Linked DNA regions of Homo sapiens. The protein of the gene in region 2 purifies or fractionates together with the protein of the main gene of each other region. This does not show direct contact. Each region holds a gene or a part of one and is shown on either strand. Other genes may lie near its edges.

Evidence for each region. Proteins that work in one complex are often made in the same cells at the same time.
Region 1: the proteins of PPIC (region 2) and CLEC4A purify together in Homo sapiens (co-immunoprecipitation; one large-scale study listed by IntAct). This does not show direct contact.

Annotation. Positions count from the first base shown.
Region 1 is NC_000012.12:8,132,529-8,137,261, forward strand, and holds part of CLEC4A (C-type lectin domain family 4 member A), read left to right. Parts: intron 1-1,240; exon of another isoform or gene 1,241-2,324; intron 2,325-3,056; coding exon 3,057-3,208; intron 3,209-4,259; coding exon 4,260-4,375; intron 4,376-4,733. UniProt on the Homo sapiens protein: C-type lectin receptor that binds carbohydrates mannose and fucose but also weakly interacts with N-acetylglucosamine (GlcNAc) in a Ca(2+)-dependent manner. Involved in regulating immune reactivity.
Region 2 is NC_000005.10:123,033,926-123,038,040, forward strand, and holds the start of PPIC (peptidyl-prolyl cis-trans isomerase C precursor), read right to left. Parts: upstream 2,801-4,115; 5' UTR 2,701-2,800; coding exon 2,584-2,700; intron 2,364-2,583; exon of another isoform or gene 1,997-2,363; intron 1-1,996. UniProt on the Homo sapiens protein: PPIase that catalyzes the cis-trans isomerization of proline imidic peptide bonds in oligopeptides and may therefore assist protein folding.

The sequences.
Region 1 (4,733 bases), on a different chromosome or scaffold from region 2:
AAATTAGTCGATGTTATTTAATGTCCCGAGATATGGTTTGTTTCAGCATATGTTCCAGAGGCACTGGAAAAGAATGGGTATTCTGTTGTTGGGTGGAGCGTTCTATAAATGTGGATTGGATCCTTGTAATTGATGATGTTTATAAGTTCTATGTTCTTGCTGATTTTCTGTGTAGTTCTGTCAATGGTTGAGAGAGAGGTGTTGATGTATCCACCTATAATTGTATATTTGTCAATTCCTCTTTCAATTGTATCAGTTTTGCTTTATACATTTTGCAGCTTTGTTTGGTGTATACACATTTGGGGTCACTTTACAAGGCTCTGTTTATTTTTTTTTCTGTCTAGTTTTTTTGTTTCTTTGTGGGTTTTTTTGTTTGTTTTTGTTTTTTTTTTGTTTTTGTTTTTCAGACGAAGTCTCGCTCTGTTGCCCAGGCTGGAGTGCAGTGGTGCGATCTCAGCTCACTGCAACCTCTGCCTCCTGGGTTCAAGCGATTCTCTTGCCTCAGCCTCCTGAGTAGCTGGGATTACAGGTGTGCGCCACCATGCCCTGCTAATTTTTGTATTTTTAGTAGATATGGGGTTTCACCATGTTGGTCAGGCTGGTCTCAAACTTCTCATCTCAGGTGATCCATCCACCTCGGCCTCCCAAAGTGCAGGGATTACAGGTGTGAGCCACCACGCCCAGCCTTTTTTTGGTATTTTTAGTAGAGACAGGGTTTCGCCATGTTGGCCAGGCTGGTCTAGAACTCCCGACCACAGGTGATCCGCCCGCCTCAGCCTCCTAAAGTGCTGGGTTTACAGGCGTGAGCCACTGTGCCCAGCCTTTTCTGTCTAGTTTGTTTCTGTTGCTCAGTTGACATTTTCTGTTGTTTTGTCTTCCAATTCACTAATCTCTCTATCCCCTTCATTCTGCTGAGTCCATCCACTGAGCTTTTTATTTTGGTTATTATATTATTCAATTATAAAATTTCCATTTTTTTTTTTTTTGTCTATCTACTGTGTTGAGGCTTCTTTATTTAAGAAAAAAGTGATACATGATGTGGGATTAAAATCAAGAACATCATTGAACTTCACCTTCCCTCCAACCAGTTGCCCCAAACTCCCCTGCCCCCACCCTTTGTGTTCCCAATTCCTTCCTTAGTGAATGAAGAACTTAATCCCAAAAGCCCTGGCACAAACTCCAGGTGCTCTTTCCCTAGCTCCTCCCCTCCCCCTGTCCCCCATTCCTAGAAGGGCAGGCACCTCAGTTTGAATGCATGGGAGAGCCCAGAGTGGTGACGGAGACAGGGGGAAAGGCTTCCCCCTCAGGGAAAGGGACCGAGGAGTACAGTGCAGTGAAGTGAGGGCTCCCATAGCCTGGGGTACCAAAATGGGGCCCTGGGGCCAGAGGAAAGGACACTGGTCCCCCTGAGAAAGGAGACCCAACAGCCTCAAAATCCTCTCGTTGTGCATAGCCACTGCTTGATCGCTTGCCCTTCTGGCGCCGGTTACAGAACCACACTCGGACCACATCCTTCTCCAGCCCAAGCTGCTGGGCGATGTGGCTGATCTGCTGCAGTGTGGGTTTCGGGCACCGCAGGAACAAATTCTCCAGGTTGCCTCTCACTTGGTTCTCGATACTGGTTCGCTTTCTCTTTCGGGCCTGCACGAGGGTTTCTGCTTTGCATATCTCCTGAAGATTTTCATTGTTGTCAGCTTCCTCCACCCACTTCTGCAGCAAGGGCCGCAGCTCACACATGTTCTTGAAGCTAAGCTGCAGAGCCTCAAAGCGGCAGATGGTCGTTTGGCTGAACACCTTCCCAAATAGAACCCCCAGGGTGAGCCACATCGGCCTGTGTATATCCCAGGGTGATCCTCTTCTGCTTCAGGAGCTTGGCAAATTGCTCGAGTTCTTTCTGCAGAGCTTTGATGTCCTGGGACTCCTCCGGGTTTTGCTCCAGCTTCTCCTTCTCCAGCTTCACGGCACCAGAGGGGACGGTGCAGGGCTCCGGGGAGGCCCCATCGGAGTTGCTCTCCACCCCGACTCCTGCTTCGCCCTCAGGCTGAGAGGTCTCCAAGCCGTCTTGGGGCACTAGCCCCACTCCAGTCTGAGGCCCACAGTACGCCATCCCCCCGCAGAACTCATACGGCGGGGGACATGGGGGAATCCCCCACTCCTCAGAGCCTGGCCCAAACCCCGGCCCGATTCCTGGCCCTCCAGGAGGGCCTTGGAAGCTTAGCCAGGTCCGAGGATCAACCCAGCCCGGCTCCGGCCCCCCTGGCCCATCACCTCCACCGCCTGGAGGGGGTGAGAAGGCGAAATCCGAAGCCAGGTGTCCCGCCATGGGGAAGGAAGGCGCCCCAAGCATGGTGAAATCTTGGTTTTTCTTTATATCTTCTAGTTCTTTGCTGAAACTTTCTAGTTTTTCATTTGTTTCAAGCATGTCTGTATCTTCTTGTTGAAGCGTTTTTGTTTTTTGTTTTTTTTTAATCATGGCTGCTTTTAAATCTTTGTCAGATAATTCTAACAATTTTATTATCTTTTTTTTTTTTTTTTTTTTTTGAGACAGGTTCTCGCTGTGTTGCCCAGGCTGGTCTTGAACTTCTGGGATCAAGCGATTCTTCTGCCTCAGCCTCCCAAAGTGCTGGGATTACAGATGTGAGCCACCGTGCCCGGCCCCATTTTTGTTGTCTTGATTGTAGGCATCTATTGATTATTATATTTTATTAAATTTGAAAACTTACTGGTTCTTAGCATAATGACTTATTTTCTATTGAACTCTGGATATTTTTGCATTATATTCTCAGAGTCTGGATCTTATTTAAACATGTTTTCGTAATAGCTGGGCTTTTCAGATGGCACTTCAGCAGGAGAAAAGGGGCCCTGCCTCATTACTGCCTGATTGAGGTAGACTTGGCTTCCTTGACACCTGAGGGGCAGGGGCTCCTGGTTGCATCTGAGTGTGGAGGGGAGTTCCAGCTTCCATGTGCTCTCTCTTGGCTCTTAATTTTAATAATACACACACTTTTAAGAGTGATTATTTATATTGCACGTATGTGCCCCTCTTCCCAATACAGAGACAGCCTGGAGCTGTTGCCCAAAGAATTGGAAGTCATTTAGTTCCAACTGCTACTTTATTTCTACTGAATCAGCATCTTGGCAAGACAGTGAGAAGGACTGTGCTAGAATGGAGGCTCACCTGCTGGTGATAAACACTCAAGAAGAGCAGGTACTTTCTAATAGATAATGGGGCTGTGAGCCCTGCCTGATCTTTGTATATCTCTCTTGGCTAAGAAGGAGGTTTTTGTTACTTTGGGATATTTGCGCTGTGGCAGAAGGCTTTCAATAAAATAGGTAGAAAGGGCTCCTAAGCCTTTATATTCCATACCTCCTTCCTGCTTCAGTAAAACTAACCTCCCCGGAAGAAATTGTGACATTAAAAATATATGAGGGTTGAATGGAAGGATGAAAATGTTTCAGTCTGAAATATCAATTTGTTATTTCAATATGTAAATGTTTTATACATGATTAACTACTTAACAAAGAAGAGGTATTAAGTTGAATAGAGAAAAGAAATAAAGTTAACTCATGATGAATCACAATCAACACTCAGGAATGAAAATAAAGAATCCCTGAAGTTATGAAAGGAAAATGACTGAATCTGCCAAAATTTTCTCATGTACAACTTTGAAGAATGTAATCCCTTAGTGAAGAAAAGAGGGGAAGTAAACCTGAGATGAGAATTCATTCTGATCATAGAAATTGCTTCCATACTGGCTGGGCATGCTAGCTCATGCCTGTAATCCCAGCACTTTGGGAGGCCAAGGCGGGCGGATCACTTGAGGCCGGGAGTTCAAGACCAGCTTGGCCAAAATGGTGAAACCCAGCCTCTACTAAAAATACAAAAATTAGCCAGGCATGGTGGCACACACCTGTAGTCCCAGCTACTGGGGAGGCTGAGGCATGAGAATCGCTTAAGCCTGGGAGGCAGAGGTGCAGTGAGCCAAGATTGCACCACTGCACTCCAGCCTGGGACAGAAAGTGAGACTCCATCTCAAAAAAAAAAAAAAAAAAAAATTCCTTCCGTATGTACTGAACATCATGCTTACAAGCGATGTCTTTGATTCTGCCCTGCTCAGCCAGAGATCCCCATTCCTACGTAGAGCTCTAATGCAGCTGTTGCTGGATCCTCTCCTTTTCTTCTTGTTTCTCTAAGGTATTAAGAATTCAGTTTAAGCTGAATACTGTAAAGGCTGTGACTCCTTCTTTTCCCCCCTCAGGATTTCATCTTCCAGAATCTGCAAGAAGAATCTGCTTATTTTGTGGGGCTCTCAGATCCAGAAGGTCAGCGACATTGGCAATGGGTTGATCAGACACCATACAATGAAAGTTCCACGTGAGTATAGAATGAGATAAAAGAATCTTGGGTCCTGGATCATGCAGAGAGCTTAGGGTATTCTAGCTATCAGCTATAAAAGTAAAATAGCTCACTCTTCTTTTAGCTCTTGGGTACTAGGTTAAATAATTTCATTATCTCATTTAATCTGCGCAAGAACCCTATGAGGCACACATTGTTATTTTTCCCACTGTAGATATGAGGAAATTGAGCTTGGAGAGTGTAGATAATTCAGCTAAGGTCACCCAGTGGTGTCAACAATTGTTCTCAAATCAGGTGGATCTTACTGTGCTTTTAACCCGTATATTTACCTGTCTCTACATAGTGAAAACCCATGTTGATTAAGATCATAACCAAT
Region 2 (4,115 bases):
TGTGGATTTGGAGCCCAATGAGCCAGAGCCCCCACCTGAGCCTCTATGGCTGGGGCAGGAAGCTGCCAGGCTGGCCCAGCAGCAGGATCTGTGGACCAAGTTAGTGCCACTAATGGGCCATGTGGGCAGAATAGCACCTCACACCTCTCTTATTTACAGATTCCTATTTTTAAATGAAATCAGAGGTAAACAAAAACACTGCTGGGGAAAACAATACACTAGAGCAATGGCCAATTAATGTACTTGTCTGCACTCAGAGAAATTATTTTTAACGTCATTTTCCAATAGATTTAGTTGTCTTTACAAGTTCATGAAAAAGTAATTTAACAGAGCAGAATCTGTTTAAGACGCACCTACACAATCAGCTTTTAGAAAAACTTAATGACAAATTTGGTAGGGGGAAAAAAGACATGTTAAGTAACAATTCTGAGAGTAGGGTGCATGCAAACTCTCCCTCAGTGACAGTGTCACAGACAAGGGTTTAGGATGCTCAAACCCTTCCCCTCCTGCAGCCACCAGCTTCCTCCTCTCTTGGCTCCATCTTCCAGTGGTTCCCCGCCCACACTGCCTGCACATCAGAATCACCAAAAGCTTCTAAAAGATAGGATACTGAGCCCCACCCATACAGATTGTGATTGACTTGCTCTGGGGTGGGTCACTGCATCAGTAAGTTTAAGAAGTTTCCCAGGTGAAACCTGTTCCCAAATATTGCAGGGGACGTACTTACACTAAAAACATTTATTCATTGTTAATCTGATATTCACATCTAACTGGGCATCCTGTATTTTATTTGGCAATCCTATTCCCTCTCCCTCGCCCCCTTTCTAAACCGTCAGCAACTCCTGTTAGTTATATCTCCAAAATCTATTTCAAGTCCTTCCCTTGCTCCCCATTTCAATGATTACCACCCTAATCCAAGCCACCATCTGGACTCTGGCATGGTGCCCTGAATGACCTCCCATTTCACTCTCCACTGAGTGACCACATAAATTTCTCGAGTATATATTGAGATCATGCCATTCTTATGCTTAAAACCCTTCAGTGGCTCTGACTGCAGAATAACACTTCAAATTTTAAGAATTGCCTCAATACCCGCATGCCTACCTGCAGCCTCTAAGGCCCTGTGTGATTCCGCTGCTGCTCACCCCTCCAACCTCATCTCAAGTCACCTCTCATTCTGTGCTGAAGCCATTCCGTCCTCTCCACATCCTCTGAATGCAGGGAGGGCTTTCCTGTTTGAGGACCTATGCATATGCAGTTCCCTTTGCCTCCTTAGTCTTCTCTGCGCTGGTTTTTCTCATTTTTCAGCTATTTTTAAATGTCACCCAAAGTATATTACAGTTTATTTCCTCCAACATTTCATAATTGTGCGAATTTTATGTTTATGGCTTTATCCCAAGAGACCCCGTTCAGCTCTGTGGCCTTGCACAAACCATTTCCCAAAGTTAGACATGCCTACAAGATCAAGAGGCTGGGAGTAAGATCAGAGCTTCTCGAAACCATCAGGCTGTTTATCAGCCCCGCCCACAACGTGGCACGGCCTTTCTGCGACATCAGATGCTGAGCTGGACCTCCTCCTCCCCACCCCCTAGTCCTCCCCGTCCTCAGGTGGCGTCTGCGGTCGAGGATGTAAGCATTCTACTCGTTGATTAGTATCGTTTCCATTGACAAACCCCAGACTGATGAAGACCACTTTCAGCTGCAGCCCGCCCCCTCCAGCTTCAGCTTCGAAGACACTATTGCCAGTGGGTTTTCTAGAAGTGGTGATCATGGGCACCAAATTATCCCCTCCCTCTCCCTGCATTCTCCCATTATCGTCTACCCTTGGTTAAATACGCTGAAAAAAGAACTGAAGCGGAGTTAAGTACGAGGAAGCCTTAAAGACGCACTTTCTGGCAGCCCCCCGCCCCCTTTCCCCGCAGTGGAGGCTGCCCCAGGTCTACAGGTGCCGCCTTCGCCCGGCCTCGCGTAGCCCACAGCAGGGGCCGCCCGCCCGCCGAAGTTGAAGGCGCACCTCCCCTTCCCGGGAAGGACGACGGTTCCCCAAAAGAGGCGGAGGGTAGTCTCTCATCTGAACCAGGCGCTTTAATGCCTGCCTGAAGCCACCGCGGCCAGCGTGGAGACCACGCAGCGGGCGGGCGGCTGCAAGCCCTGGGCTCCGAGCGCCTCTCCTGTGCGGGTCCCGCCCCCCTCCCCGCATTCCTCTCGTTCTGCTCCCGAGCCCAGGCCACGCTGAAGGAAGTACTTGGGCAGTCTCTTTCCTGGAGAACGGGCCCGCCGGTTCCGGAAGCCTCTCCTACCCCCAGGCTGGTCACCTCGGACTACCGACCCGGGACAAGAAGTCCAAGCAGACTGCGGCGGAGGTAGGCTGGCCTCAGCCCAGCTCCCCCAGGGTCTCCCCCGGAGCGCCGGCCTCCCAGCACGCGAGCAGCCCCCTCCCACCCAGTCCCGCGGCCGCCTCCAGTCCCCCTGCGCCCGGGAAGCCTCCACCTCGCCCGCCCTGACACCGAGGTCCCAGTATCCAAAGCGCCCCCAGGGCCCCGCCCGCAACAGGGGAAGTTGCAGCCCGCCGCTCTCGGTCACCTTGGCCGTCACCGAGGGGCCTCGCTTGCGGAAGCCCTCGGCCCCCGAAGAAAACACAAGTGCGCCGAGCCCCACGCAAAGCACGAGAGGTAGCAGCAGCCGAGGACCCGGGCCCATGGTGAGCGGTGGCAGCGGCGCTACCGGCACGGGCGCTACCGGCACGGGCGCGACACAGGCTCTGGGACAGCTGACGGGACTGCCGGCCGGCTGCGCCTGCGCGCTCCCGGTTGCGGGGGATGGGGATCGGGCAGTCCGGGAAGGGCGGGGACCCGGGGCGCGTTCCTCCCAAGTTCAGACTCGCGACCCGAACTTGGGATTCGGAGGAGCGCGCCCACAGGGCGCAGCCAGGGCTCGACCGCCGCGCCTTAGGCGGGTGCGGAGGGCGCCAGGGACGGGAGGGAGCCCGGGTTGCCCAGGCGCGGAGCCGGGCGCAGCGGGCTAGGCTGGGAGCACCTCCAGGAATTTACCGCGTAGGCGCGGATTAAACTTGGACGGGAAGACCAGGACTCTCGGGCTTCCGCGTCCGCCCGGCAGCTAGCGCTCCGCGGGACTGGGAACTCTGCAGCCGGTCCCGGTGTGATTGCTGCCGCCTTGGGAGCAGCCTCCGCCGCGGCCGCCGAGTTCCAATGGCCCATTGGAACCTTTTGCTAGGTTTTGGACGCTTAGCAGAACTTTGACATCGCTGGAGGCGTGGAGCCCTGTTGCACTCGAATAATGGCCTCTCTTTGAGATGATTCACGTCTAGGGAACACTGGAAAATGCTGGATTCACAGTGCCCCTTTGCCTTCGAAAAACTTTTACATTGGCTTTAAGTACTTTATTTGGAGGATGATTCTGTGATCTTATCTACACTGTTCACAAGGCAGCACTTACACAGGCCCAGAACCATGGTCATGTAGGATTCTTTCCTGGGGAAACAAAGTAAATAAACTGACTTTTAGGTGTATCTGTAGGATGGATTTTTTACAAACTTAAGAATTATGTTTAGGAAGATTAATGACTGGGGAAGTAAGTTCTTATTATATTTTTAAATGGAAAATTCGGGTTGCAAAACCACAAATTCTGATCTCAACCGTGAAAATAAATATATCAAGGCACTTAAATATTGAAAGAGATGTACCACAACGTTTACAGTAGCTATAGATAGAATTGATAGCTATTGATAGACTTATGGATTTTTGAGGGTTTAAAAAAATTTTTTTTACAGTTTTCTGATTTCCCAGATGTTCTACAATGAGCATATAAGTATTTTATAACATGGAAAGGGTTATTTTAAAACTCATTGCTTTTTGAATTAGAATTTCAAAAGAACTTTTTTGTTTTAGAGTAACAGCCCTAAAATTAACTAAAAATTAGTGGTATTCGCACATAGGTGCCATTTTAAGGGGCTGGTGCCATTACTTTCAAGCCAAGATTTTCCTCGGATTAAGAGATGGAATTTCTAAATGTCAGATGGGATTCCTAGGTGTACCTAAGTGTAGATCTAAAATGACATTGGAACCATTAGAGATAAAAGGAGTAACCACTACTTC